Homo sapiens: one gene and its partners. The protein of the gene in region 3 interacts with the protein of the main gene of each other region in a pairwise test. Each region holds a gene or a part of one and is shown on either strand. Other genes may lie near its edges. The genes, in order: CDKN2AIPNL, CDKN2AIP, XRN2 and CRY2.

What was found.
Region 1: the proteins of XRN2 (region 3) and CDKN2AIPNL interact in binary tests that used the Homo sapiens proteins (3 or more experiments, as listed by UniProt).
Region 2: the proteins of XRN2 (region 3) and CDKN2AIP interact in binary tests that used the Homo sapiens proteins (3 or more experiments, as listed by UniProt).
Region 4: the proteins of XRN2 (region 3) and CRY2 interact in binary tests that used the Homo sapiens proteins (3 or more experiments, as listed by UniProt).

The regions. Positions count from the first base shown.
Region 1 is NC_000005.10:134,408,861-134,416,780, forward strand, and holds the start of CDKN2AIPNL (CDKN2AIP N-terminal-like protein), read right to left. Parts: upstream 3,022-7,920; 5' UTR 2,995-3,021; coding exon 2,756-2,994; intron 1,143-2,755; coding exon 1,043-1,142; intron 1-1,042.
Region 2 is NC_000004.12:183,439,724-183,447,641, reverse strand, and holds the start of CDKN2AIP (CDKN2A-interacting protein), read right to left. Parts: upstream 3,007-7,918; 5' UTR 2,845-3,006; coding exon 2,573-2,844; intron 2,108-2,572; coding exon 1,977-2,107; intron 1,555-1,976; coding exon 215-1,554; 3' UTR 1-214. UniProt on the Homo sapiens protein: Regulates DNA damage response in a dose-dependent manner through a number of signaling pathways involved in cell proliferation, apoptosis and senescence.
Region 3 is NC_000020.11:21,299,331-21,306,348, reverse strand, and holds the start of XRN2 (5'-3' exoribonuclease 2), read right to left. Parts: upstream 3,019-7,018; 5' UTR 2,951-3,018; coding exon 2,876-2,950; intron 2,852-2,875; exon of another isoform or gene 2,811-2,851; coding exon of another isoform or gene 2,502-2,810; intron 1-2,501. UniProt on the Homo sapiens protein: Possesses 5'->3' exoribonuclease activity. May promote the termination of transcription by RNA polymerase II.
Region 4 is NC_000011.10:45,857,461-45,864,481, reverse strand, and holds part of CRY2 (cryptochrome-2), read right to left. Parts: intron 5,752-7,021; coding exon 5,609-5,751; intron 3,635-5,608; coding exon 3,450-3,634; intron 2,423-3,449; coding exon 2,334-2,422; intron 1-2,333. UniProt on the Homo sapiens protein: Transcriptional repressor which forms a core component of the circadian clock.

The DNA of each region.
Region 1 (7,920 bases), on a different chromosome or scaffold from region 3:
AAAACAAACCATCCTGAAAATCAAGTGGGGTGTACTATTTGGGACTGAAATACTTTATGAGCAACTGAGAATCTGATTAGTTCCTTGACACCCATATGGAAGAGGACCTCTATATGTGCCCCACCTCCCAAGACAAGACCTAAATGTGGAGGAATGGGCTTACCTATGTTTCTAAGGGCAGACCTAAAAAGGGGCCAGCAGCTTTTTACTCTACTGCTTCAGTCGATTTTATAAGTATTTTCTGAGTACCTTCTCTGGGGTATAAGTATACTAGGTTTGGGAGTTGTAAAGACTAAATAGAACTTTAGACACCATCTGTAAGGTCACAACTGCTTTAAAAGAGCCCTGGATAAAGTGCCAAAGGAACTTCAGAAGATAAGCGAGCAATTAATTCTGCTGCCTGAGCAGACAAATGTGAAACAAGCATGTTTTGGAGGTGATTCTGAAAAGTATTAATAGCTGGGATGCCCAGCTCCATATTCTGAGGTTCTTTCTGCCACATTCTGTAGCCCCAGCTCCAGTGTCCAGATTCAAGACTCTAGGCAAGACTCACTGTAAAAAGCCCATCGCCTGAGATCAGACCCCAAAGGGTAGAGAACAGCTATGCCATCGACATTGCTCCAGGCACGTTCTTATCAGCAAATCACAGAAGCCAAACAAGTCAGGTCGGCACTCACACCGGCACTCACACCTGGGGTAAGGATGAGTCTTACCAATGAGATTTTTTAACAAGTAGGAAACTTAAGTATTCTAGCCAACATCTTTTTAAACATCAAGCAAAAATCTCAAAACAATGTTCCTAAACAACCGGAAGAGGTTAAGCTTATGTGTTACCTCATCAACAATGCATAATTTACCACAGTGAGTTGTCAACTATTTATGAAAAGGCTTATACCAATTATGGGGAAATAAAAATGAAAGGGTATAGGTCTTTGGGGCAGTAAAGAGCATTCAAAAACAATATACTCTAATATAGTGTCATCAAGGCAGGGACTGTTAACTCTACACCATTTCATCACATGCACTTGGAAATCCTATTTACCTTTTTCATTAATTCACTTCTGGTAGTAAATTGTGGCAGGTCTTCCACTTCAATCCCATCGGCCATTTCCATCACCTTGTCTAAAAGGTCTTTATTGTAACTGCACAATAAAAAGTAGTAAGGTAAAAACCTTGGAACAATTGTCACTGTGGATTAATAAGAAACTGCAGGTTGCTCAACTATAAAATCAGCTCTCAGAGAACTGACCTGATACTGCAGGGCAAACCTATACATGTTCCCCACAAGGTTTTGAGATGGAGTCTTGCTCTGTCCCCCAGGTTGGAGTGCAGTGGTGTGATCTCGGCTCACTGCAACCTCCACCTCCCAGGTTCAAGCAATTCTCCTGCCTCAGCCTCCCGAGTAGCTGGGATTACAGGCGTGTGCCACCACGCCTGGCTAATTTTTTATTTTTAGTAGAGACAGGGTTTCACCATGTTGGCCAGGCTGGTCTCCAACTCCTGACCTCAAGTGATCCTCCTCCCAAAGTGCTAGGATTACTGGCGTGAGACACCGTGCCTGGCCCTGTGAACACTTCTTGCTTGTAGATACAGAAGTGGACTTCAGAAATACCAGTACAGCAGATGTTTCAAGATTTAGAAGAACAGAGGCACTGTACATCCAGCAACAGATATTCTCAGATACAGGATGAGGACCAAAATATTTTTATTTTTTAAATACATGGAATGTTAGTCTAACAAAAACATTATTTATTTCCCCAATTCTCTGACATTTGCCTAACCATGGAAAACCAGGATTTCCCAGGAGCACCTAGAAGGCAGGGAAAAGGGACGGGTGCCTCTGGCATTGCTTCCCTACGTACTGTTCTAATAAACCCCAATATGTGAAGCAAAACCAAGTGGCTTAGGCCTGCAGGGGCCAAATGACCAGAGTCAGGCAGCCATAATAGGTATAGAAACCAAGATCAAACCAAGTCACCCTATTTTCCTAACACAATTTCAGGAAAATCGAAGCTCTCTAATAGGGAGTCTCAAGATTTGCCACCTTCCTCATGGAGGGGTGAAAGGAATGCCTTATCAGGCACTTCAAAAGCGGGCCTTTGTCCTTTTGGTGCTGCAGCCAGGATGAAGTGGGCTTTGAGACCTTCACAAAAAGGCATCGGCCATTTTCATAAGAGGGAAAGCAGAGAGGTGAAGCTGGTTCCTACTTAGGACCCCGTGGGCTGTGGAGTGAGGAGAAAAAGCCATAGGATACAGATTACATCCTCTCATTAGTGATTAAAATCCATCAATCCTGCCAGAAGCTGCATGGCCCCAGGTATATCACTTCTCTCCCTAAGCTTTTTCATCTGTAAAATGGGGATCTCCGTTTCTCTCTCTGCACGTTTGCCATGTAGGTGACAGGGGCTAACGGACTTCGAATGCATACTGCAAAGGTGATGGTTTGAGCTAATAATAATAGTAATACAAATAACAATAGCAACCTTTGAACCCGCCATGTATTTAGCTCTTCACCCTTTAATTATTACAGCCATCATAACCACCCTTTTACCAGAAGAGAAAACTGAGGCTCAAAGATAAGGATCTTTCCAAGGGGCCTCCAGGGTGGGAATCAGTCTTCGGGCCGACCAATGCGGATGGAGGTTGGGCCCGGGTTCAGTCTGGGGCAGAGGTTCGGGTCAGGGGTGAGCCCTGGGAGAGGCCTTGAGGGTCGGAAGATAGGGGACAGGATCAGCCGGCCGGCAGGGGTCCGCACCTGCAGCCTAGGAAGAGATGGTTGGCCCAGACCATGGAGAGGGAGAGCAGCTGGTCCAGGCGGCCACTGCCGTCGGGCGGGTCGCGGTAGTCGGGCAGGTGGCGCAGGATGAATTCCATGCGGGCCTTCCATTGCTTCTCGCTCTCTGAGTAGGAGCGGAACTGCTCCGCGAAGTCGGCCGCCTGCCGCACCCCCGAAACCAGCTCCTCCACTGCGGCAGCCGCCTCGCCACCGACCATGGTGCCCGCCGCAGCCGAGGACCGGATAGCCCGCCGCCTTCCCGACGCGCACTGCGCCACCGCCTGCCGGCCAGAGGGGCCCCATCAGCGCACGACTGCTCCAGAAGACCAACCTGGAGCGCCCTCGCCCGGAGCGGCGGCCTGCGGGGGCACAGAGCGGCTCCTGGCTCCTCAGACCGCCGCAGCCCGTGGCTCCTGCCCTGGGTCTACCCAGGGCTACAAGGGTCTTTTGCGGTCGACCCTGCGGGGAACCGGTGGGAAAACTGAGGTCCCTAAACACAGATTCGGAGCGCCCTCTTCCAGTTGGCAGCTGGATGCCAGCCAGAGCTATGCTGTGCCCTTGCCCTGAGAGTTTCCCGGGCACCGCCTCATCCTGAGCGACATCAGGGGGCCCGGGTCACGGTCGACTTCCAGGGGTCTCCACAGCCACGAAGGTTGGGGCCCGCCTTCCTGGAGCGAGTAATCCATCCATCCCGTGAATACTTGCCAGGCACATTGCTAGGTGCTGGAGAGGCAATGAGAGCACATTCGGAGCCCTGCTCGCCTGAACTTTACCATGGAGTGGAGGAGTGGACATTAGTGACATAATTGCTCAAGTAAATGGAGAATTTCAGCGTTGACAAGTATTAGTAAAGAGAAGTTCAGCGTGCTACAACCATGAATAAGCAAGGGACCCAATCTAGTCTTGGGGTCAGGGAAGTGATCCTGGAGAAGTGAAGAATGAGCAGTTTTCTGAGTAAAGGGGAGTCGGTCAAAGCAAGAGAGAGCATGGCCTGGTAAGAGAATTGCAAGATAGGGGGTAGGAGGGGTTGGGGGGCGGGGCAGGGCAGGTAGAGAATGGAGAAGATGAAGTTGCAGAGGTCAGCAAGGCCAGTAGGCCAGGCAGGGATCCTGGCTAGATCCCAAGAATGGGGAGCCGCTGAAGGATTTTAACCAGAACAGTGACACCTGTGTTTACAAAAGATGCTGGAAGGAGCCAGAAACAATGTGTCCAGAGGAAATGAGCAAGTTTGGACTTGGTTTTAAATAGAGACAGGGTTTCGCCATGTTGCCCAGGCTGGTCTCGAACTCCTGAGCTCAAGTGATCCGTCTCCCTCAGCCTCCCAAAATGCTGGGATTACAGGTATGAGCCATCGTAACTGGCTGGACCTGAAAGTTTTTATTTAGCTGGCATGACTCTGCTGTCTGTTCGAGTCTCAGGTAGCAGACACACTGAGAGAAAAAAGAGCTTCCTTTTAAGTGGTGAATTTTCCATCCCTGGAAGCATTCAACTACAGTAACTGGGTGTTGGGGCTCAGAAACCAACACCCCAAAATGTATTTTGACATGCTGAACTGATGAAGAAGCCTCAAGGTCTCTGTGACCTCCGCCACCAACACACACTCCTGTCTGTCAATTCTTTGTTCCTCCCAAAGCACAAGATGAAGTTGTTCCCTTATCTGCCTAAATTTAGTCCAGAACGCCAAAGGAAACAATTATCTCTGGTTCCCTCCCTGAGTTTTCATTAAGTGAATTTGTTTTGCAGGAGGAAAGACTGAAGTATGGTCAACACACTAGGACAGACTTTTGTCACAAACCCTTGTCTCCTCTGCAGGCCCAACAGACTTTGTCCCAGGCCATTGCATGTTCTTCAAGCCCATTGAATTACCCTAAAAATCATTTACTACCCATCTAAAATATTCACACTCTGGATGATGGGGTAATCACTCTGTGATTAACTATGCACATTAATAAACTTGTATGTCTTTTCTCTTTTTTTTTTTTTTTTGAGAGCAAATTTCACTCTTTTTGCCCAGGCTGGAGTGCAATGGTGTGATCTCTGCTCACCGCAACTTCTGCCTCCCAGGTTCAAGTGATTCTCCTGCCTCAGCCTCCTGAGTAGCTGGGATTACAGGCACCTGACATCACGCCCGGCTAATTTTGTATCTTTAGTAGAAACGGGGTTTCACCATGTTGACCAGGCTGGTCTCGAACCCCTGATCTCAGGTGGTCCAAGCTCCTCGGCCTCCCAAAATGATGGGATTATAGGCGTGAGCCACAGTGCCTGGCTGCCTTTTCTCCTCTTAATCTGCCTTTTGTCAATTGATTTTCACTAACCTTCAGAGAGCAAAGGAAAGTTTTCCCTTCACACAAAGAGTCACTTGAGCCTTCACCAGCTTTGAGAGATTATTGACCTAATAGGCTTCCCCATTGCCCCCAGTCAAATGTGAGGTTGGGGTACAGAGGTGAGCCTAGAATCCACGATCTAGGGCTCCAGTGCAGGTCCTGTATTGTGAGTGTGGCCTGTGGGGAGAGCTGATTACATCCTGTCTGCTGCTTCTGCAGCTTCTTTTGGGGCATCAGGGTCCCCAGAAATCAGAGACTCAACAAAGCATGGAAATACAGGGCAGTCCGCATAGAATGAACCTGAAGACCCAGCACCAAGCTCAGTGATATGGCATAATGGTTAACAACAGGGAGGCATGATATTCATGCAAATGTGGGCAAGCAAAGTGTCAACAGGCCTGTGAGACCAAAGACAGAGTTAGCTACTCCCAGCAATCAGGAATTGGTGCACAGACCTAAAAGTCCCAAAAGTGAGTGCAGATCCCACGTCCTGAGAGGCTCGTTAAAATGACAGACTCCCCCAGGCTCACCATTGGATGTTCAGATTCAAGGCCCCAGGTAATTCTGCTTCCACCTGCCGCTGACCAAACTTAGAAAAACTCAAAGTTAGACTGGGAGTGGTGGCTCATGCCTGCAATCCCAGCACTTTGGGAGGCCGAGGCGGGCAGATCACGAGGTCAGGAGATCGAGACCATCCTGGCTAACACGGTGAAACCCCGTCTCTACTAAAAATACAAAAAATAACCAGGCGTGGTGGTGGGCACCTGTAATCCCAGCTGCTTGGGAGGCTGAGGCAGGAGAATGGCGTGAACCCAGGAGGCAGAGGTTGCAGTGAGCTGAGATCGCACCAATGCACTCCAGCCTGGGTGACAGAGTGAGACTCCGTCTCAAAAAAAGAAAAACTCAAAGTTGTTGAGGGTTCTCTGAGCTAAAGTCTTGGTCACCTGATTGTATAGTACAGAGGTTAGCTCAGAAAGTCTTGGTCACCTGATTGTATAGTACAGAGGTTAGCTCAGAAATAGGAACCCAGGCTCTGCAAATAGCAGCTGCAGTTACACAGCCAATCCTGCCTATGGGGTGTGAAAAAGCTAAAGGTCATGCAGCAACTACCTTATTTAGCATATCTGTGACAATTATGGAGCATATGCATATACATAACATACGGACGAACATATTCAGACATGCATACAATTGTAAACCCAAAAGTGCACAAATAGGTATTCTTTTTTTTTTTTTTAATACAGAATCTTGCTCTGCCATACAGGCTGGAGTGCAGTGCCACATCATGGCTGACTGCAGCCTTGACCTCCCAGGTTCAAGAAATCCTCCCACCTCAGCCTCCATGAGTAGCTGGGACTACAGGTGTGTGCCACAATGCCTGGCTAATTTTTAAGTTTTTCATAGAGTTGGGATCTTGCTATGTTATCCAGGCTGGTCTCAAACTCCCGGGCTCAAGTGATCCTCTTGCCTCAGCCTCCCAAGGTGCTAGGATTACAGGCATGAGCCACTACACCTGGCCAGGTATTCTTTCTTTAAAAAAAAATTGTGATGTTGTTAACATTATGCTTTCAAAATGCTAAGCAGTATAAAATATTGGCCAGGCACAGTGGCTCACAGGCCTGTAATCCCAGCACTTTGGGAGGCTGAGGCAGGCGGATCACCTGAGGTCAGGAGTTCGAGACCAGCTTGGCCAACATAGCGAAACCCTGTCTCTACTAAAAATACAAAATTAGCCAGGTGTGGTAGCACGTACCTGTAATCCCAGCTACTCAGGAGGCTGAGGCAGAAGAATCGCTTGAACCTGAGAGGCAGAGGTTCCAGTGAGCTGAGATCGCACGATTGCACTGTAGCCTGGGCAACAGAGCAAGACTGTCTCAAAAAAAAAAATTGTTAATGGCCACACACAGTGAGACCCTCATCTCTACAAACAATTACAAAATTAGCTGGGCATGGTGGTATACACCTATAGTTCCAGCTGCTTGGGAGGCTGAAACAGGATGATCGGTTGAGCCCAGGAGTTCAAAGCTGCAGTGAGCTATAGTAGCAACACTGCATTTCTGCCTGGGAGACAGAGAAAGACCTTGTCTCAAAAACAAACAAACAAAAAAGTTAATAATTAACACTTCACAGAACAATGTGGCAAGTCCAGTTATTGACCAGTTTGTTGTTTCTAACTTTTTTTCATGATTCAGACTTTTTTTTTTGAGACAGATTCTCACTCTGTTGCCCAGGCTGTAGTGCAGTGGCGTGATCTCAGCTCACTGCAACCTCCGCCTCCCAGGTTCAAGCGATTCCCGTGCCTCAGCATTCCAAGTAGCTGGGACTACAGGGACTTGCCAGCACGCCTGGCTAATTTTTGTATTTTTAGTAGAGACGGGGGTTTCACCGTGTTAGCCAGACTGGTCTCGAATTCCTGACCTCGGGTGATCTTCCCGCCTCAGCCTCCCAAAGTGCTGGGATTATAGGTGTGAGCCACCGTGCCCAGCTGTGTTTAACTTTTTGAACAAACTGTTTTCCACAGTGTCTGAACTACTCTCCACAGTGCTACTGGTAATGCATGAGGGTTCCAACTTCCTCACATTCTTGCCAACACTTAGTATTTTCCCTTTTTTAATTTTTAAATTATAGCCATCCTAGGGGGTACAAAGTGATACCTCATTGTTGTTTTGATTTGCATTTTTCTAATAAGTAATGATCCTGAGCATCTTTCTTGTGCTTATTGGCCGTGTGTATATCTTTTTGGGGACATGTCTATTCAGATCGCTTGCCCCCTTTTTTTCCTCTTTCTTTTTTCCCTTTGTTAGAGTTAATTTTTTGTTT
Region 2 (7,918 bases), on a different chromosome or scaffold from region 3:
TACTAATATGCTGCTAATGCATACCTTTTAATGTGTACTGTCATTCATAAATTATTTACAACTGCTACTGTGTGAAGAGAACTAGAATGTAAATTTTCTGCAAAACTGGAAAAAAAGCAATACAAAATTTGTGAAAGCCTGTGTTTTATACTATACAAAAGTCAGTTTTTCTCTTCAAATACCAGATATTGTATGCAGTGATATTTTGGACACATTATAGTAATTCTTGAGGATGTTTTAGTGCTGGAGGTAAGTTTACAGGCCTCGATTCTTCATCAAGGAGTACTAGATCTTCTATTTCACTGCCTCTGTATTTCCTTTTACATATTTTTACCACCACCTTTTTCTTGAGAAATAACTTCAATGCTTCTCTTGATGCAACTGCTTTTGCATTTTCTTTGCTTTTTCCACAGCCAGTGCCCAAATACACAGACTTGCACCTCAATTCACAAACAATACTTTCTTGAGAGCTCTTATTTTGAGGCAGATCTGCCAATTCTTTTAGTGGGACAAAAAATACATCCAGTGTTGCTTTCAGAGCCTCAATAGCTGCATTTAGGAGCTCTCCATGATTCACATTGGGACTAAAGCCACCAACAGCTACCAACTTCCATGCCACCGTTTTATATAGTCTATTGAAAAAAGGTTGCTTCTGTTTCACATCTTCATTGGTTAACTTGCAAGAGAATTTGACAGAACTCTCACTTGACTGTGAAGTACTTTTAGAAGGCAACTGTGAGGTGCTAGTCTGAGAACTACTCTTAGAAGCCAACTGGGACACACTTGCTAAGGAAGTGCTTTTGGAAACCAGAGATCCACTGGTCTGGGAGCTGCTCTTGGAAGCTAGTAGTGATGCAGCTACCTGGGAAGTGCTCTTGGAAGTTAGCAGCGATGTATTTGTTGAAGAGCTGCTCTTGGGAGTCAGTAAGGATGTGCCTGATGAGGAACTGTTTTTAGCAACTGATGATGAAACACTTGCCTCTGAACTAGTTTTGGAAGTTAACCCACTTGAAGCTGTCTCTGAACTAGGTTTGGAAGACAATAGTGGCAATTCTACCTCTGAGCTTCCTGAGGAGCCCAACAAGGGCACCTCGATCTCTGAGCTGCTTTGAGAAGCTGAGGCTGAAGAGCCTTCCAAAGCACTCTTTTTAGGTGATCCACTTTGTTGTCTAGAATCAGTGGATTGGGTCATGTGACTATTCACACTGGATTTCAGCAAGGAAACAAATGATGCAGAACCGTGTTTATCTGGAGCTTCTGCTTCAGAAGCTTTCCCAGATCCTGCCGTTGTTACCTGAGAGGAAACGCTGCTGCTGCTTTGGCTGGAAACAGATCGATCTCCATCACTTGTAGAGCTATTCTGACTGGAGATGCCAGAGCTCCGAGCTGAGTTCCCACTCTCTGATTTGATGGCCGACCCTATACACGTTGAACTGTTTTCCTGCTGAGCTGATGCACGTTCTGTCTTGGCAGAGGTTTTTGCGTGATCTTGCTCAACTGCAGAACTGTTTTTTCCTTCTATAACTCGTTTTTTGGATGGCTCTTCTACCCCTTCTAAAAAGAAGAAAAACATAGATATGTGACTAAGAATACCTCGTACAAAACGGGTGATGAGACAAATACACATTAAAATAAAGGCACAAAGTGAAAACATTTCAAGACTAATCGTTTCTTTAAAAAGTGTGGAGTCATTAATTTCTTAAAACAGTGTTGAATAACATCATGAATGTCTAATATTAAAAAAATAACAGCATCAGACAACAGTGGACACTTCAAAATCTAAAGCAGTCAAAGCAAACTATCAAATTCAAAGCCTAAAGACACAGATATATACTTTAGGTTTAACATTCCAACTTTATTACTTATTAATAACATAAAAATTCTGGCTTGTTAAAAAAATTAGTAACAATAATTCCTAATTATATCAAACTTATGCTCTAAACTCCTATGTATGTTCACATCTATGATCTGCTAACCATTGCTACTCGATATCCCTCTTTTCTTCACCTTGGCAACCAGTTCATCTCTTGTTGTATAGGTTGGAGCATCTGTCACTTTGATGCCTTCAGCCATACTAAGTATTTTATCCATAACTTTTTGAGGGTATCTGAAAAAGAAGGAAAAGTCATTTTTAAAAAGTGTTTTTTCTAAGGTCCTACTTGTGCAAAAAACAGGCCACAGGGACTGCATTTCCTGGCTGCAATCAAGAAAGTGAACCAACCGCCAAGAACTGTTTCCTGGAACCCCATAAACAAGTGCCCCAGGGTCTGGGAGGCAGGGCACCTCCTCACTAATCTTAAATCTCGCACCCGTCCCCAAGAGCGTTGTTCCCTAACACAAGCAACCCTACCAGCAGCTGCGCCCACACCACCGGGCACACAGACGTCCGGGAATCATGTCGGCTCCTCGCAGGGACGCCCTTCTCCCCCTTAGAGGGCAGCCGGGCCGGCGGATTCCCGCGCTTCACAACTTCCCCTCCCCGCCGAGGCCGGTCCCGCGGAGGGCGCCGGGCCCCGGTCTGCAGGTGGCACACAAAACGAGGCGTGCTGGTTAGGGACGCTGCCTCACTCACCGGCACCCGAGGAAGACGTGGTTCGCCCAGGCCATGGAAAAGGAGATGAGCTGCTGCAGCTGCCGGTTTCGGGTCCCGCTCTCGGCGTCGGCAGCTTCATCCGTGCTAGCGGAGGCAGCGCCGCCAGCGGGGGCCAGGTCCCCGGCGTTGCGAAGCAAAAAATCCCGGCGGTGGCGCCAGTGTTTGTCAGTCTCGCCGTCGCAGCGCAGCGCCTCCACCCAGGCTGCCACCCGCGGGTTCTGGCTCAGGTACTCCGACACCTCCTGCGCCATGTTGGGCCTGCAGGCCGCGAACACAGCTGCACCGGGAGACAGGCAGGACTAGCGGGGCGAGCGGCCCTGTCACTGCGGCCTGCACCCGCGGCCCTCCAGATAACGCCCCTCCGCAGGCCTAAAGACCAAACAACAGCGCCCAGAGCCGCCGAACCGCCCACTTCCGCCCACCGCCGGCTTCTTCCCTTTTATAACCTCGCCGCCGCCGCGCGCCCTCGCGTTCTTCCGGCGCGAGCCGGCGCTCCCAAGACGCTTTGCGGCGCCGGGGCCGCTGCGACGCTGCGTCCCCGTGAGGCCACGGAGGGCACCCCGGGGGTGAGGTGGGCGGGCGTCGGGCGTCTCCCGCCCCACGAGGGCGGACTGCAAGTCGAGCTGGCCTGGGACGACCGAGTCTCGGCGGAACCCCGGGCGTTCTGTCCTCGCTTTGTGACGCCGCGCGCTCCTGCCGTCCTCCTCCCCCGCCGGGTCAGCTGCGGCGCCGGGAGCAGAGGCGAGAGGGGCAGGGCCCGGGCAAGGGAGGCAGCCGGGCGCGGCGGCCAAAGTCCGCTAGGGGGGCGTCCCGGGGGACCTTGAGCCGCCCGCAGCCGCGGGGCCTGTGGTCTCCGCCCTGAGACGCCTGTGTGTGAGCGGGGCCAAAACAAACAAAAGCCGGCCTCCATGTTAGAGTGTTGGGAGCTGCGTCTCGCGCTGCTTTCAGTGTGCCCGAGCGAAGCGTTCCGAGGCCGTCGGGGTCTCCGCGCCTTCAGGAGGGCGGGAGTGCCAGTCCCCTTACATAGCAGCAGTAGACAGTAAGGTCACACGAGGACCTGGCTCCGTGTTGCCGTGAGGCTTGCAGCCTTCGAAGCTGGCCCTGGCCCCGCAGCGGTAGGGCTTGTTCCCGCAGTTTATTAGGTCTCTAGTTAATCCAGGCATTGCCTTCCTGTTCTGGTCAGTAGGAAAACAACACCCCGACAACGCTCTGTCTCTAGAATTTCCTAAAATCAACAGCTTTACCACCAACCGGCAGATGTCCGGAGGTGGAGTGGAAATGTACCTATTTATCTATAGGGCCCCAAACCTCTCTCCCTGTTAGAGCTGTTTTTTCCTTCTATATATTTTTTTCCACTTTACATTTCCCACAGTTACGTACTCTAACTGCTGGCTGGCTTATTGTTACGTTTCCCATTCCAGGTATACATGCACTGTAAGATAAATACGTTAAATGATATAAATTATGAAATTTTTCTTTCAATAAATGTAGACTTTGATGTAAAAATGCATGAATCAGAATAAGCAAGCAAAAAAAGGTCACTTTAGGTAAGATCAGATAAGGTTAACTGTGTAATTTATGTGCATGCTGGAACAAAATACAGCTATTGTATGAAAACAATATTGCCCATTTTCCTGCCATACCAAAAGAAACTACATAAAAACGGAGGCACAAAGAAATTTTGAAGCTTTGTGATTTTGCTTCTAGTTTGCTGTTCTTTCCTCCTTTTCACAGATAATTGCTGAAAATCTAGAGGGGGTGGACGGATTGCAGAAATCTGGCTATTTAAAAGGTGGAGAAATTACGATTTCTCCTTTCATGAATTCTTTGGCAAGGGGACCATGGCAAGTAAAAGAAGCTATGATCGCATACCTAGATTATATATGTGCATTTTAAATCAAGAATGTTCTCACGGCCAGGTGCAGTGGCTCACGCCTGTAATCCCAGCACCTTGGGAGGCCGAGGCGGACGAATCATGAGGTCAGGAGTTCGAGACCAGCCTGGCCAATGTAGTGAAACCCCATCTCTACTAAAAATACAAAAGTTAGCCAAGTGTGGTGGCACGTGCCTGTAGTCCCAGCTACTCTGTAGGCCGAGGCGGGAGAATCGCTTGAACTCAGGAGGCAGAGGTTGCAGTGAGCCGAGACCAAGCCATTGCACTCCAGCCTGGGTGACAGAGTGAGACTTCATCTCAAAAAATAATAATAATAATGTTCTCACTTTTTTTCTTGTTGCCCTGTAGTCTTCTTCCCACTCATGGGCTTCATTGCCTTGAAAGGAGAACAAGTAGAGCCTGAATTTCAAACAATTTTTTTAATTATAATAAAAGCGATAGAGTCTGAAAGATGGAGTACTTGTGCAAAAACCAGGTGCTTGGAATAAAAGATACATGCATTTTTCTTTTTTGATTCTTAAAAAGTTGACTTTGCATATAAAGATTCAAAGACTATGAACCACAAGTAGCTGGGACTGCAGGCGGGTACCACGACGACAGGCTAATTTTTTATTTTTTTGTAGAAACAAGGTTTCACTGTTGTCCAGGCTGGTTTTGAACTCCTAATATCAAGCAATTCTTCTGCCTCGGCCTCTCAAAGTGCTGGGATTATAGGCATGAGTCGCTGTGCCCGGCCTCATTTTTTTTTAAAGACCCTCCCACCTACAGAGACAAATTCCTCTCTAAGCTGGGGGAGACGTTCTGAGAGAAAAGGTGAGAGGAGAATTTAGGTGATAACTAGGAAAGTCTATGGGAGTAGGGAATAAGATGCAGGGTGGGAAGTGTTGGCTGTTAGAAATTGCTAGGTAGATTTTGGGTCTAAGAGCAGAAGGACTTGGCTCTGCCCGAGTTTCTGAGAGAAGACAGCCCAATCGTGCCCTGAGCCTGTATGCGTTGGCCTTTAGAAATGAACATAGAAAGGGCCTTTTATAGCTTTGATAACCAACTATACAACTCCCTCCTCTGCTCCTAACACACGTGTGTATATATATATACATATGTGTGTGTGTATATATACATAACACACACACACGCATTTACGCACATATATCTCACAGGGCCTAGAGGAGATCCAAAAGGTTCCCAAGAAAGAGTTGAATGGTGAAGTGCCTACCAAGCACCAGGGTCCAAGGTGAATGAGGCTAGGGGTGGTCAGCTTGTCAGCAAAGGGAGATGCAGCTAGTTTTCAGCAAGTCATCAGACCAGTGCCCGTCAGGCCGCATCAATAGGAGAGGACCCTCAACCTCTCCTGAAATGATCAGTGTGCATTGCTTGTGCTGGTAGATCAAGCAGTTATACTCCCAGCAGAGCCCACAGGGAAGAAAGCACAAGACAATGCTAGGATGATAACCAAGCCTCACCCCACCACTGCCCTCACTAGAAATCTACTCAGAGGAGAAAAGGGAGAGAATTCTAATGAATTGAGAAAGATCCACTATCATCCCAAATTGAGTTTCAAACAAGTGACTGAGTTCACAGGATTAAATTTTCTGCTGTAAGTGGAAGCCCATTCACTGAAACTGGTTCTGTAGCATATCTCTCTGAAGACATCCAATAAAAATTCCAGCGGCAAGCTGGCTTTTCTGCAGATGGCTTTCCCATGGAGCAACATGAAGGGATTGCCCCTGTTCCTGGATGTGACTGTGGAAGCAAGAAAGCCTTTGGCAGGAAGGTCTGCATGTGGAGAGGCTTGTGAGGAGCAAATACTCCAGTTATGGCCAAGGTTATGACTTGATGTGAGAAATACTTCATGGTGAGGGGAAATATTTTATGCTAATGATGTGTGAGGACACAAATCTGCCAAATTACAGTGATAAGGTGGGATGTTCTGAAAAAGTAAGAGAATGTTTTAAGAGTGATCCCCTCTGTTAGAAGCTTTGAGAAATCAAGTAGGATGAAGATAGGTAGTAACAGTCTGATTACGGACTGGAGCCACCTGTGAGCTTGGCAAAAGCCGTTTTTACTGCAGTGATGAAGACTCCATATCAGAGTGAGTTCAGGAGTCGGAAATGGAGATATTTGGCTGTAAAGGGGAGAAGATAGAGGAAGCTGGACAGGGTCATGGGGTCAAGGTGGCTTCAATTTCAGATGGGAGTAGCCTGAGCATGTTGCCCACTGCTTGAAGGCAACTCACAGAAAAGGAGAGTTTGAGGATCTGAAGAAAAAGAGGGTAATTAGCAATTTCTGCAGACATAGGTGTGGCTGGGATCCACACACAGGTGGAGAGATTAACCTTAGGTGGGCAGACACTTCCTCTGTTTTAAAAGAAGACGTTTGTAAGTTTGGAGCTGAGACGTTGACATGGAGGCCATCTGATGGTGCAGAGAATGCTCGCAATGGATATTTTAGAGGGCAGAAGAGCAGGCTGCCTAGATGAACATAGTCTTTTTGGCCAATTTAAAATTACAGGCTGGGCGTGGTGGCTCACACCTGTAATCCTAACACTTTGGGAGGCCAAGGTGGGCAGATTACTTGAGCCCAGGGGTTCAAGGCCAGCCTAGTCTACATGGCAAGACCCTGTCTCTACAAAAAATACAAAACATAGTTGGGTGTGTTGGTACATACCTCTAGTTCCAGCTACTCAAGAGGCTAAGGTGGGAGGATCACTTGAGCCCACGAGGTCGAGGTTGCAGTGAGTTGTGATCGCACCGCTGCACTCCAGCCTGGGCGATAAAGGGAGACTGTCTCAAAAATTAAAATAAAATAAAAATATAATGTGTGCACACAAAAATGAAACATCTAAGTAGAAAAAAAGAGGCATAAATGAAAGCAAACAATCTCCCTCACTCAACCTGGTCCCACTCTGTGGACATCAGCATTCATGTCATTTCTATCTTGATTTCTTTGGGTGATTATTTTCATAACTCCAAATTAAATGCTTATACTTCCATTTCTTATTTTTTCAACTTTAAGCAGTACTTATTTCACTCCTGAATGTTGAAGCTGAGAAATCCATATCATTTACACTACCCCTTTTTTCTCCTAATTTTTGTTATCTTTTATTGTTTTCCCGTTGGCTACCTGTCATAAATTCAAATATTATACTTAATCATCATTTTTAAATCTATCAACTTCAGGCAGGTAGCTCTTGATTTCCACATCATGTAAGAAAATTCTGGAGAGACCATATTACAGATATTTAGATATTCCCAAAATATGCGTTCAGGATAAAATCTAATCTCTAGTGATAAATCGACAGCAGATGGATAATTCTGAAGTTTTCCTACTTACCTGCAGGATTTATGCCATTGTTTTTACATTAAGCCTTAACATTAATAAATGTTAATAAATTTGTTTGCTGCTGTGAGGATTAAGTAGATTGCGAAGTTATA
Region 3 (7,018 bases):
AGCTTGGCCAACATGGTGAAACTCCGTCTCTACTAAAACTACAAAAATTAGCCGGGCGTGGTGGCGCGCCTGTAGTCCCAGCTACTCGGGAGGCTGAGGCAGGAGAACGGCTTGAACCCGGGAAGTGGAGGCTGCAGTGAGCCGATATCACACCACTGCACTCCTGCCTGGGTGACAGAGCTAGACTCCGTCTCAAAGAAGAAGAAAAAAAAAACACCTCGAATTCCATGCCTAGCTAATGATCATTCACGTGTATAAGGGTAGAATGGAGCTATTTTGGGTCCTACAATGACTCGGAAATCTCACATCCCACACAGCATTTCTTAAGAATTAAGAATAAGGAGGCCAAGGCAGGCGGATCAGAAGGTCAGGAGATCGAGACCATCCTGGCTAACACGGTGAAACCCCGTCTCTACTAAAAGTACAAAAAAATTAGCCAGGCGTGGTGGCGGGCGCCTGTAGTCCCAGCTACTTAGGAGGCTGAGGCAGGAGAATGGCGTGAACCCCGAAGGCGGAGCTTGCAGTGAGCCGAGATTGATTGAGCCACTGCACTCCAGCCTGGGAGACAGAGCGAGGCTCCGTCTCAAAAAAAAAAAAAAAAGAATTAAGAATAAAAACTAAGAAAACGATTTAAAGGAAGAAAGATGGGCCGGGCGCCGTGGCTCACACCTGTAATCCTAGCACAAGGGAGGCCCAGGGAGGCGGATCACGTGTGGTCAGGACAGAGACCAGCATAGCCAACATGGCAAAACCCCGTCTCTACTAAAAATCCAAAAAAAAAAAAAAAAAAAAAAAGGCCACGTATGGTGGCTCATGCCTGTAGTCTCAGCACTGTGGAGGCTGAGGCAGGCGGATCACCTGAGGTCAGGAGTTCGAGACCAGCCTGACCAACATGGCAAAACTCCGTCTCTACTAAAAAAAAATCAGCTGGGCGTGGCGGCGCACACCTGTAGTCCTAGCTGCTCTGGACGCTGTGGCAGAAGAATGGCTTGAACCCAGGAGGCCAGAGGTTGTAGTGAGCCGAGATCATGCCACCGTACTCCAGCCTAAGAGACATAGCGAGACTCCGTCTCTAAATAAATAAACAAATGAAGTAAGATGATGATCCAGAAAACAGTACCTCCCACTGAAGAAAGATATGATAGCAATAATAATAATAAAATCCCAGATGCAGCTTTCCAGCAAGCCTACAGAATAGCCAGGTGTGACAGCAACAAAAATAAATAAGACCCCAAGAAGGACTATTCAAGAAGAAAGATGACTCTTGATAGACTACCTGGTAAAATAGAGTCCGGGCGCGGCAAGATGTAAAGTGGAAAAAGAAAGACAGCCCCAGGGAAAAAGACAAAAGCAGCACAAAAAACAAAATCACAGTACATAACCTGAATCTACACAGTGTCAATAGTCAACTATCCTATCTGATTTTTCAGCATTTTAAATCTGTATAGTCAAAGCCCTGATCATTTAATTTTGGATGCCCACAACGCAAAAGTACAGCTGACAAACTTGAGGTGAAAGGGAAGAAAAGCTAAGATCGACCTTAGAAAGCATTGAGTCAAGGGATACGTTACACAGGCGATGGAATGAAAAAGGCAAATTACTTAGTTATAAAGCTTACCAATAAAAATATATATCTAGTGATTTACTCCATTAAGAGTATAGAGGGAGGGCTGAATAGGTGACTAAATCCTCTCCTATTCCAGCTAGAATTCAACAGATCTAAAAGTGATAACGTATAAGTATGATACTTAGAGACAGAACCAAAACAGTTAAAGGTGGAGAAATGGGATGAGAAGGGGTAGAGCAAGAACTGTTGCTTTTTGTTTAACCCACGTGCAAGTAAAGTTCAATAAAGTTCGATTAAAATTTTACAAAGGAAACAAGTATTCAATTTAGCAGTTGCTTTTTGAAAAAAACAAGAAATAGTGGGAATGTCACTAAGACAAGGCTTTTGGTTCCTCCTTGGATAGAAGCCAAGAAAGTTAAAAAAAAAAAAAAAAGCAGAAATAAGTTCACAGTGACAGGCAAGCACTGCCTTCAAAAACTAAGGAGTGAGGTACGCGTGATGTGCCTCTGAACGTTTCCAATCCAGAAATTCTAATTAAGAGCACAAAATCGAATCCGCATGGAATGACGAAAACAATAAAAACAAAACTCAATAATGGCCAAAAATCTACTTACGTATTAACTAACAACAAAAATTGTACTGCTCAAGTACATCCAGTAATCTTGAAATTTTCAACAAGCACCCACCCCGTTCAGTAGTCAGGGCACACAGAGAAGGGTAACTTCTCAGAATTCTATAGCGCTCATCCTGGACCTGACATACTGCTTTCAGCGTCCAATCTAACCAGAACAACAAATGGTCCTGAACACTAGGAGAAAACCTTTCCGGCACAATTGGTAAACAACGAAAAGGTCGCCGCCAGGGATTCCTTTACAAGGTTGTCAAAAAGCTGGCCTCCGAATCCGTGCATCCATAACCCGCTAGCTCAGCTGACCTGGCATGCATTGCTCAACAACAGCCTCTGAACCTCTTCCGAGACCCAAAATGCGCGGTCTGGAGAGGAAACAAAGCAGTGGGCGGGGCCTTCCGGTGCCGGGAAAAAGCGAGTAGGGGAGGAGCGACCCTCCTGCGAGTTCGGAACCCTATAGGCCCTTGCCCCGCCGAGGGTCCTGAATTCCTCGCCCCCGGGGTGCTGAATCCCACAGCCCGCGTCCCATCGCGTGTGGGGCTGCGACTGCTCGCGAGGCTGGCAGCAGGGCGCGAGCTCCGGCAAGGCTCCCCGGGGGCAGGCGGCGGAGCCCATGGGCCGCGGCCTAGACGTGCCGGGGGCCCGGGCTCGAGTGTGGCGGCCGCCTGGCGCCTCCTCACCTTCTCTTCCACGCAGTTGACTATGATGGACGGGTACTTGCGGCTGAGCCAGCGGAAGAACGCCGGGACTCCCATAGCGGCACACGGCTGGAGGCGGCGGCCGACCGGCTGACGAGCGTAACCAAAGAGACGGGAGCAGCGGCAGAGGGCACCAGCACTTCCTCCCACGTGCGCGCTGGAGAACGGAAGTGACGTCACGGCGCCGCCGCCGGGGAAGCTGGGAAGGAGGCTTCGCTGGATGAGGGAGCGGCGGAAAAGGGCCTTGCCGGGCTGTTTGTGGGAGGCGGAGTCCGGCGGCGGACCGGGTGGCGAAGGCTGCAGCTCGCCCTCGGTGGTCCCAGCCCCGGAGCGCGAGGCCGAGCGCGTCTGAGTTGCGGGGGCTCACGGGCGACTGCTCTGCCGGGGCTCCGCCGGGATCTCCCAGCCCCAGCCCTCCGGCTCCCTGGGCACAGAATCGCTGCGCTCTGCATGCCCGGGAGGAGGTCTCCCTTGCCCGTTTGGTCACCTCTTGTTTGGAAGAAAATGTCTTTTTTTGCCTCTATGCTCACCCGTCTCAATCTAGGGTAGAATCGAAGCATCCAAACTTACTCGTTACTTCCATTTCCTGGTTTCTCCTAGTTTTGTGCTGCAGTACGTACCTGGACTATCAAAAGGAGCATTTTAAAGCATTTTACAGTAATAATGGCTGCTTTGCACCAATAATTTGATTGTTATGCAAATAAATAATTATGATAGTTACCGAATGGAATCTAGCCGGTATTTAGCATCCAATACAATCTTCCAGCTACAATTACGGGTATAAAATAGTTGCTAATATGATTTTCCAGCATTTACTGAGCCTTTACAGTGTACCAAGACATTGACTAAGGGATTGTCCTATGTAATCTTCACTTGAACCTTGTGAGGGTACTGTTAGCACCCTCGTGTAAATGATAAGAAAGCCAAGTTACAGAGGAGTTAAGTCACTTATGCACATAGCTTCTGTTTCAGTTCAAGCAAAGGTCATTTTTAATCCATCCTTGTTCTAACACGATACTTTTATCTTTTGTTTTCTGGTGGTCCCAAACGAATTTTTTCCATATGAAAGGAGAGGTCTGGAAGAGGAGGTATATTTGTCCGTTTGCTCAAGCCTGGAAGTCTCCCTGAATCCCCTCTTGGTTTGACACACATCACACACGATGCTAAATGCTCACCTCATGAGGCCTCTGTGAAAGTATTTCGCCGAGTTACCTCACAGGCAGTATTTATTGCCCCCTCCTCTGTGGTCTGATGACTACTTTGTTTAAACTACTAGTGTGGAAATTAGAGAAATAGTCATCCCGTGTTTTACTTAAGGATAGCCAAAACTATTCCAAAGTATTATGTCTATGGTGAAATTCCTCCTTTTACCTGGAAGCAGCCCCTCTGGTTTCCCTGGGAGGTGCTGTTATAGGAACATGTACACCATAGGCAGTTCAGGGATAGACAGCTGGCCAAGTTGAGCCATTTAGAATCCTTAACCAGCATTTTGGCGGGTTGGGAGGGTTTATTGTTTTGTTTTTGTTTTTTCAGACGGAGTCTCAGTCATCCAGGCTGGAGTGCAGTGGCAAGATCCAGGCTCACTGCAACCTCCACCTCCCGGGTTCAAGCGATTCTCCTGCCTCAGCCTCCCGAGTAGCTGGGATTAGAGGCGCCTGCCATGACACCCCGCTGATTTTTGTGTTTTTAGTTGAGACAGGGTTTCACCATGTTGGCCAGGCTGGTCTCGAACTCCTAACCTCAGGTGATCTGCCCACCTCGGCCTTCCAGAGTGCTGGGATTACAGGTGTGAGCCACTGCACCCAGCCTTACCAGCATTTTTGAGCTTTGAACCATAAGAAATTTAAGACTGCATCTTTCCAGTGCGTGAACGCTAAAAGATAAGAATTGGGACTTGTTGCCAGTAGGCAATGAGAGAAGCAGGGTTAATTCCCTGGTTCCAGTTAAATCCCTCTCTTCCTGCAGTTTGATTAAGTCTGTCCTTTGATTCTGTGAGCCAAATTTTTTTTTTTTTTTTTTTTTAAGACAGAGTCTCACTCTGTTGCCAGGCTGGAGTGCAGTGGCACCATCTCGGTTCACTGCAACCTCCACCTCCCAGGTTCAAGCGATTCTCCTGCCTCAGCCTCCCAAGTAGCCGGGACTACCAATGTGCGCCACCACGCCCGGCTAATTTTTGTATTTTTAGTAGAGATGGGGTTTTACCATGTTGGCCAGGATGGTCTCAATCTCTTGACCTTGTGATCCGCCCGCCTTGGCCTCCCAAAGTGCTGGGATTCCAGGTGTGAGCCACCACTCCCAGCCAAAAGTTTCCTTTTGCCCTAAGCTGGCTTGGGCTAAATTCTTATCCCTTACAAAGGAAAGAGTCCAGTAACAAAATTTGGGGAGTGCAAGCTAATTCACCTGGGTGGTGAAATTGGTTTGCATAGAAGTACTAAAATTGGAGTTTTGGCACTCAGAGAAGGAGTGGGTAAAAGAGAGAAGAAACTTGAAAGGCGGCAGGAGGATATGGACTAAGTATTGTGACACTTTCCCTGGCCCAATGTGTCCAGTAAAGCCTGTCAGACTCAGGCTTGGTATGGGTTTTTCTTGTAGAAATCAAATAAAAAGTCTCCAGTTGGGGTCACTGTGGTTTGGAACCACCACGGGGTGGGCAACATAGCAGACCTCTAGAAGCAGAAGAGGTGAGAATTTATTAGTGTTGGAAATTAGCAGGGAGGCCAGGTGTGGTGGTTCACATCTGTAATCCTAGCAAATGGGGAGACTAAGACAGGAGGATCACTTGAGCCCAAGAGTTTAAGGCTGCAGTGAGCTATGATTGCACCACTGTGCTACAGCCTGGGTGACAGAGCGAGAAGCTATCTAAAAAAAAAAAAAAAAAAAAAAAGAAAATAAATTAGCAGAAATACTGAACCAGACTTTGGACTTATACAGGCAGAGAACCCAGAGGTTTTGAAACATTTTTGCCCAGATCTCAAAGGGAGAGAGGAAGGCCACAGCTAGTATCTGGATTACATTAATGTGAAAAACAATATGAAAAATATATAATATGTGGAAACTAGGATGTTTTTAAATATTCATCAATTCATTTTTAAGCCCCATTAACATTGTAATTATCATAGAAAAAAATTCTCAGTTTTTTTTTGCCTACTATTGGTCCTTCTACCAAGTGATTCCTTTCCTTCTTTATCCTTACAAAATTCATTGTGAATAACCTGATGTATTTAAAACAGTAATTGTGGCCATTTTGGGTTGAGATAAACATTTTTAATCAGTAGAGTAAAGCAGATTGCCCTCCATAATGTGAGTGGACCTCATTTCATCAGTTGAAGGCCTGAATAGAACAAAAAGTCTGGCCCCCAAGCAAGAGGGAATTCTCTAGCCAACTGCCTTGAGATGTAATCTGCCTCCTGAGTCCTGAATCTGCTGGCCTACACTGCAGATTTGGATTAGCCAGTCTGTATAGTTACGTGAGCCAAATCCTTATAATAAATGTCTTTGTATATGCCCACATGTTGATTCCATGTCTCTAGAGAACGCTGACAGCTACAGATTCTGGTACTAGAAGTGGTTCAAGCGGAACGGAATCTTAGGGATGCATTTTTGTAATTGGTTCTGAGGTTTCTGGAAGTGGTTCTCTAGTCTGATTAGATTAAAAACAGGAATGACTTTCCAGTAGTAAATAAAACACTTGATAGTCTATGGCATGATGAAGTAGTAGAATTACACAAAATATTACCAAAACTAAAAAGAAGCAGGATCTGGGTGACCATGCGTATGATACTTTATAACATATTTGCCAAAATAACAAGTATAATGAGATTGGTTGCCCCTAATGTTGCTGGACAAAGTGGGAAAAGAAAAGGATGAGCTCAGGGATTCAAATTCCCAGCTCAAGTATAACATAAGTGACCTGAAACTTTCTATTTCTGCCCTGAAAGAGACCCTTATCTCCTATAGCTGCAGAGCCAAGATTGTTAAAAATCAACTCCGAATCACATCCTGTAAGTGGCTGAATTAAAGTGCAGATTGAATTTTTGACTTTGCAGGTTGTCTACTTCTAAAGTGAGGGCATTGATTGGGAACGAATTGGATCCTGAAAGTTGGAATGGGGGCATATGGAAAGAC
Region 4 (7,021 bases), on a different chromosome or scaffold from region 3:
CACCCGGCTAATTTGTTTTTATTTAGAGATGAGGGCTTGTCATGTTGCCCAGGCTGGTTTTGAACTCCTAGGTTCAAGAGATCCTCCTGCCTTGGCCTCCCAAAGTGCTAAGATTACAGGTGTGAGTCACTGTGCCTGGCCTTAAAAAAAACTTTAATATGTTATTTAATTTTCTTTTAATCTGCACATTTTATGCCATTTTTTTCTTTTCCTTTCCATTGTTCTGGGAAAGAATCCAGGCCATCTGACTTGCCAAGATTCCCACAGTCTGGATTTTGCTGACTGTATACTCATGGTGCAGTTCAACAAGTGCTGTGTCCTGTGTATCACCTGCACATTGGTGGCTAGTACCAGAAACTGGACTGGACTCAGGTTTGATCCCTTTGACAAGACTACAGGGGGCACATAATGCTTGCCTCCTTCTATGGTGTCAGCAGTCACCAATACATAATGCATCATTATTGAGGGTTACAAAATGGTGGTATTCAAATTCCACCATTCCTTTTTAATTTAATAATCAGAATACTTTTATAGAGAGATGCTTGCCCTCATCTACTATTGAGTAACCCAGTGGTAAAGATCATGTAGCTTCCTCTGCTTTTCAGTAACAGCATCTCATATTCCTGTGGAGAATCAGCCTTCCCTGATCCTAGTCCGAGTGGATAAAGCAGAGCTAAACCTACCTTCCAGTTCTGGGAGCGGACTCATGATGCAAGTCTGGCCAGGGAAAGCACCACCTCCTATACCTGGCCACAGTCATTGAGTCAGGGACAGTCACATGACCCAAACCAGGACAATGAAAACATGCCTTGGGACTTTTCCTGGTGCTTTCGGAAAAGAGGCACATACCTTCTTCTATCTAGTATTGCTAAACTGGCATGAGTAGGTGCTCCCTTCAGATTTGGAGAACTGAAGGAAGCTAAAATAAACATCCTGAAATCAGGTTCAACTCCTGTATCTCTAGCACCATTTGTTCTCCCAGATGTGCAGGACACAGTATTTCCTCTGGGCACCACTGAGTCTGAATATGTCCATGGCGTAAGGGCCCTTGAGAGAAGGGGCCCGCTCTCTGGGGGTATGTGGAAAAGGAGCTCCTGTCGGTGACCTAAGGGACATCCTTCTACAAAATGTTCTCCAGCTGATAAAAACTAACCATAGATGATAGCTCTTTACAGGTTTAAGCCTTACTCTACTCCTGCAATCCCATTTGTCATCTCCACCCTTCTGCCCCTTGGCCCAACCTTTGTCTTCAAACTGGGCCCAAGAATCTCTAGGTGAACCTTTTGATGTGGACAGAGATAGCTAGTCTCATCCTTTAAGTCTGTGGGGCTTGCTTTCGTCCCAGGCTGAAGGAAACAACCAGGTAGAAACATCGAGGCTGTGGGCCTTCACTGTTGACTGGACACCTCCAGGGCTGGAGAACATTCTTCCCAAGTAGATTTGCCTTGGCCTCCTTGTTCTATTATCGTCATCATCTGGCTGCTAGGCAAAATACCTAGCCATCTTAGCAGGCATAGAAAAAGCTGACATTTTATAAACCAGCTGCAGGGGGCAGGAAACTAGGAGCTGACTGTTCTCGGACATGAGAACTTTCTCTGCTCCTCTAGCTGCAGGGGAGTGAGGACTTTGTGACACTGTGCCTCTGAGGCCTGGGCTTCTTTCCTCCCCAGTTCTCACTGCACTGGGAGGTGGGCCATTTGCTCTGTGTCCAAGCATATGGAAATCAACACGCTGAAAGAGTTCCAGCAAAAAGGTGCGGAGACACATCAACACAAAATAATCTTATAGATTTTACTAACCAGATATCCTCTTAGTAGGGGGAACCTGCCCACAGATGAAAGAAAAGCAATCCGACATAGCTTTAGAATAACATAGAACAAGGTCTTACTGTGTTATAAGGTGAGCATTCCTAATTCAAGAATCTAAAATCTGAAACACTTTTGGTCCCAAGCACTTTGGATAAGGGATACTCAACCTGTAATTACTAACTTTGTGACCTCAGGCAAGTTACTTAACCTCTCTAAGCCTCAATTTTGTAATCTGTAGAATGAACAGCTTAGTACCTACCTTGCAGGCTATTGGAAAGATTAAAAGAAATGCCAGCAGGTGCTTAACCCAGAAATGCTGAGCCTAGTGACCAGCACATGGTAAGTACTCTCTAAATGGTAGTTGCTGTTAGTGTTGCTGTTGTTATGGCCATCAGGAGGATAGGAGGATTTTTCATTTTCCAAACAATGTGAGCTAAGAGGGACTAAAGGACATGGACATGACCTGTATCTCCTGCTGTGTGGATATCAGTATCTGCAGCTCTGTGTCTCAGAAACGGCCCATACCTTCCGTTCCAAGTGCTTATCCAGGCGGGCCAGAGCTTCTGTCTCTCCTCCCTGCCAGACAGCTGGACCAAGTCCTTCAGTGGGGAACCCTGAAGAGAAGGAAAGGTCACAAGACAGGAGGTTTGACCATTTCAGTGATAGCCCGGCACGGCTGTTCTGTTATTTGAACTTTATGAGAATTGAACCACAGTGTCTCGGTGCTACTGGGGGTTAGATAATCCTTAAAGTTTTAGCGTTTTCTAGGTCAACTTGGTTCTCTTCCCACAGTCACTATTTTCTCTGCTTTCCCCTGCACCCTCATCGCTCCAGGTAGATGACAACAATCCCGGACCTCCTGCCTTTTCAGATTAGCTGGCAACAACTGTGGTTTTCAGGTGAAAAAGGCTAATAGCTTTGTTCAGATCAAAAGACTGGAGGTGTGGCTCACGTCTGTAATCCCAGCACTTTGGGAGGCCGATGTGGGTGGATCACTCGAGGTCACCAGTTCAAGACCAGCCTGGCCAACATGGTGAAACCCCGTCTCTACTAAAAATACAAATATTAGCTGGGCGTGATGGCAGGCGCCTGTAGTCCCAGCTACTCAGGAGGCTGGGGCAGCAGAATTGCTTGAACCCGGGAGGTGGAGGTTGCAGTGAGCCAAGACTGTGCCACTGCACTCCAGACTGGGCAACAGAGCCAGACTCCGTCTAAAAAAGAAAAAAAAAAGGTAAGAAAGAGGGAGGGGTGAAAGAGTGTAGTTAGTAATCTGAGAGGCTGACAGATTCCCTGCTTTCAACAGAAGCAATACTAGCTATCTTGTTACTGAGAAGCCCATGGACACCAGCACCAGGCAGTGCCTGTATTGTCTGCGAGAGGTTAGTACAAAAATAGAGGCATGATCTAGAACCAGAAACAGAAGATTACATGTATGAGTATGAACAGAACAAATACTAGAAGGACACAGTTTAAAATTAATTGTGGTTACCTCTGGGTGGTGGAGTAATAGTGACTGCCATTTCCATTTTTGTTTTCCTGTGCTTTCTAACCTTTCTATAATGACATGCATTACTTTCACAAAGAATTTCTTTACACAAAAGCAGGCACCAGCACAAGTGGCTCTGGGCAGGAAGTACGCACCCAGCTCCTCCAGGGAGGGCACGCCGTAGGTCTCGTCGTGGTTCTCCTGGATCTCGGCCCTGCAGCTCTCCATCTGCTGGCTGGTCACCAAGCCCACTGGCTTCTTGGGCAGCTCCATGCGGCTGATGATGGCCTGAAAGCGCTTGTATGTAAGGGGTGGCTTCTGCCCATTCAGCTCAATGATCCTGGGGAGCCCAAAGCATAGCTAGTGTTACCCACATGGCCCTGTGATGTGGGTCCCTGCCCACCCAAAAAAGAACCCAGACTCTGAAGGCTTTGAGGGTGGCTTTCCTCATCCACTCACAGGTCCCATGCCTGAGTGGAAAGGAGGGGGCAAGGGAGGCCGCATCTCCATTTTACCGAGAGGGAAAATAAAGCCCAGAGAGCTGAAGCAGGTGCCTCAGTAATGGAGCAAGGCAGGGCCAGAGCTGGGACTCAATTCCGGGCTCCCTGGTGTTGACGCAGAGCCGCCTAAAGACAGAGACTGACAAAATCTCTAATCACAGAAAAATCCCTACTAGCCTGCTTGGCACTTGGCCTATCTGTCCAAGCTAAGGGAATCCCCATAGGCCTCTACCACCCATGTAAGCCCTGGAGAAAGTTCTTTGATAAGAGCTGAAGACATGTTTTTTTTTTTTTTTTTTTTAACTCTAACATCATAAGGAATAGCAGACATGTTCCTTTCTTGGAAAATCATCCCCTTCTTAGCCTCCATTTATTAGAACATTGAACAGAGAGGTGGAAGACAGCTTATCCTCCCAAATTCAGAGACTGGAGCTAGAGTTCATAGCCACAACTGATACTTAAAGAGAGTCTTGTAGTTTACAAAGTATTTTTCATGACCAGGGAAAACATAACTGCACTCATGCAAGAAGGAAGGAGTATCAGAGGGCGAAGAAGAGAACGGAGGCTGTTTATATAAGGATGAATTGGGATGGTATGGAGCCACATTCCCGGGGCTCTTCTTGGCCAAGAAGTAGCTTACGCAAGGCCCATCTGGCTGGGTGAGTTCATTTCTCAGTTTGCTCTCCCCACGTTAGTGGAGATATATGGTCGGCTGCTGCCTCTGCTATGCCTCCCTCTCCTCTGGCACGCAGCAGGAGGAGGATCTCCACACCCAGCCTCTCCTCCTGAGGGCCCGGCTCACGTGCACAGCTGTGTGACCTGGCTTCTTGGCAGCCAGCACTGGGTTGGGAAGTGGGGGTGGGGAGCGGCGGCGGCTGCTGGCTTGGCAGCAGCAGCAACAGCAGCAGCAGCAGCAGGAGGGTGACAGCTCTGGCATGGCAGGGAAGGGGAGGAGAGGATTTCCTCCTAGAATCTCTGAAAGCACAGAGGCTGTCACCAGGGGAGGAGGCTCCTCTGTAGTTAGCAGCTCCCTGCAGGGATCTCTAGAGCCCTCCCCGCCACCAAGCAACATGGCCTGGAAACCCAGATAGTCATAGAACCTGGGAACTCTTTTTTTTTTTTTTTTGACACAGGATCTTGCTCTGTCACCCAGGCTGGAGTGACGTGGCATGATCACAGCTCATGGCAGCCTCAAGCCCCTGGGCTCAAGTGATCCTCCAACCTCAGCCTCTTCAGTAATTGGGACTACAGGCATGTCCCACCATGCATGGCTAATATATTTATTTTTAGTAGAGACGGGGGTCTCACTATGTTGCCCAGGCTGATCTTGAACTCATGGACTCATGTGATCCTCTCAAAGTGCTGGGATTACAGGCATGAGCCAGCATGCCCAGCCTAGGAACTCATCTTAGGTACAAAAACTGGACCTGTGTGAACAGAGGTCTGTTGGAGGGGTAACAGACAGGGTCCACTGAGGTCAGAGGGCAGCTGTTGAGCAGGATGGAAGTGGGAATATGAGGCACAGGTGGGACTCGGGCATACTAGGAGCAGATTTGTAAATACCCTGAGTGTGGGTCCTCACTGCTTCCATGCTTTGGGCCTAACAAGCCTCTCTGCCACCTCAATGGGGTAAAGCTCTTTGTGACCTGTTCTACAGGTCCTGACTCTGGCCTATTCTCCTCCAGCTTCTAGAAGATGCCATGCCTCCTGGGTCAGGTAGCCCTAATGCTGAACCTCTCTGAGTTCCGCTCAGCAGGGGCCCAAATTACTAACTCTCACAATTGGTAACCTGATCCCTGGGCCCCATCTCTTACCTGTCCAGGTCATAGAGGGTATGAGAATTCTCCGTCACTACTTCCACACCAGCCTCCTTGGCCATCTTCATGATGGCTGCATCCCGTTCTTTCCCAAAGGGTTCAGAGTCATATTCAAAGGTCAAGCGGGTCACTCCCCATTCCTGTGGGGAGAGGATCTGTTATGCTCAACACTGTGTTTGGGGAGGAGGGGGAAGCTGGACTCTCAGTTCCTTCCTGGGAGAGAACAGAGCTAGTCTAGAGACCTATCTGATGGGCAGCAGAAAAAACTAGGAACAGGGATTTGATCTGGAAAGCAAACAAGCTGAGGTTCAGAAAGTTTGAGGAGGGCAGGCAGTGTGGCGAAGCCAACAGCACAGCAACAGTGGAGTTGGGAGAGAGGTAGGCAGCCTTGTGCACTTGCTGTGTCCTTGAGGTAGGAGAATGCAGCAGGAGGCCATAAATACAACGCTCCTGGGAAACCCCCAGTCCCAGAGAGTGGCACTGACTCACAGGTGGGACAGGACCACAGCCTTCTGCCTGCTCAGCAAGCTTTTCCCAGAGCTCCTCACAGCCCTGCAGACTTGTGGCCTAGTTTTCTTGGCAGAGTTGTGCTATGTGAAGTGTCTTAATTGTTTCCACAGCAACACTCCTGAGGCCAATAGCAAACAGAGCTAATAGGTTCCAGCCCTGAGAGAGTCAGGAAAGGGGAAGCGATCCTTAGTCTGGAGGTCAGAGGAAACTGACCAGAGGGGCTACATGTTGAAAAGGAGGAAGTTCTTTCCTAAGCCTTTAGTCATTTCTGGTAGGAATTTCTAGATCTCATAGCAAGCTGGCCCAGTGAATGGTTGTACAGTCAACCCACAGAAAGCCCTAGAGCATGCAACTTGCAAGAAGAAAAACACATTCTCCAAAGTCTCTGGTCATAGTCTCTGAAAGCTCTGAACCACAGGGGCAAATGTCCTAGCCATGCACAGGCTGGTCTGGTCCTGACTCAGCCCTGCCCGGGGACTGGGTCCTTAGCAGGGCCAGTTATCCCTCATTCGAGGATATCAGCATTAAACATTGATTGAGCCCTTGCTATATGCCAGGTACCATGCTTATAGTTCATATAGGTTACATCACTGAATACTCATTGTAACCTGTGAATAACAATATTATTAAATTACATTTTCTCCAAGAAGCCTTCTTGACCTCCTCCTTCAATATAATTCTTCTGCACCTTGTCTTTTTTCCACTGCAGCATGTATTATATGACAATGATACACTTGCCTGTTTCCCCTATTAGTGTGAACTCTCAGAGCAGAAACCATGTTGTCTCACTCATCATCATTACCCTTATACCTAGTATGGGGCCTAGTACCTAGCAGAAGCTCAATAAAAATACATTACATGACTGAATGGATGACCTAGCTATATCTCTGGGATATAAGT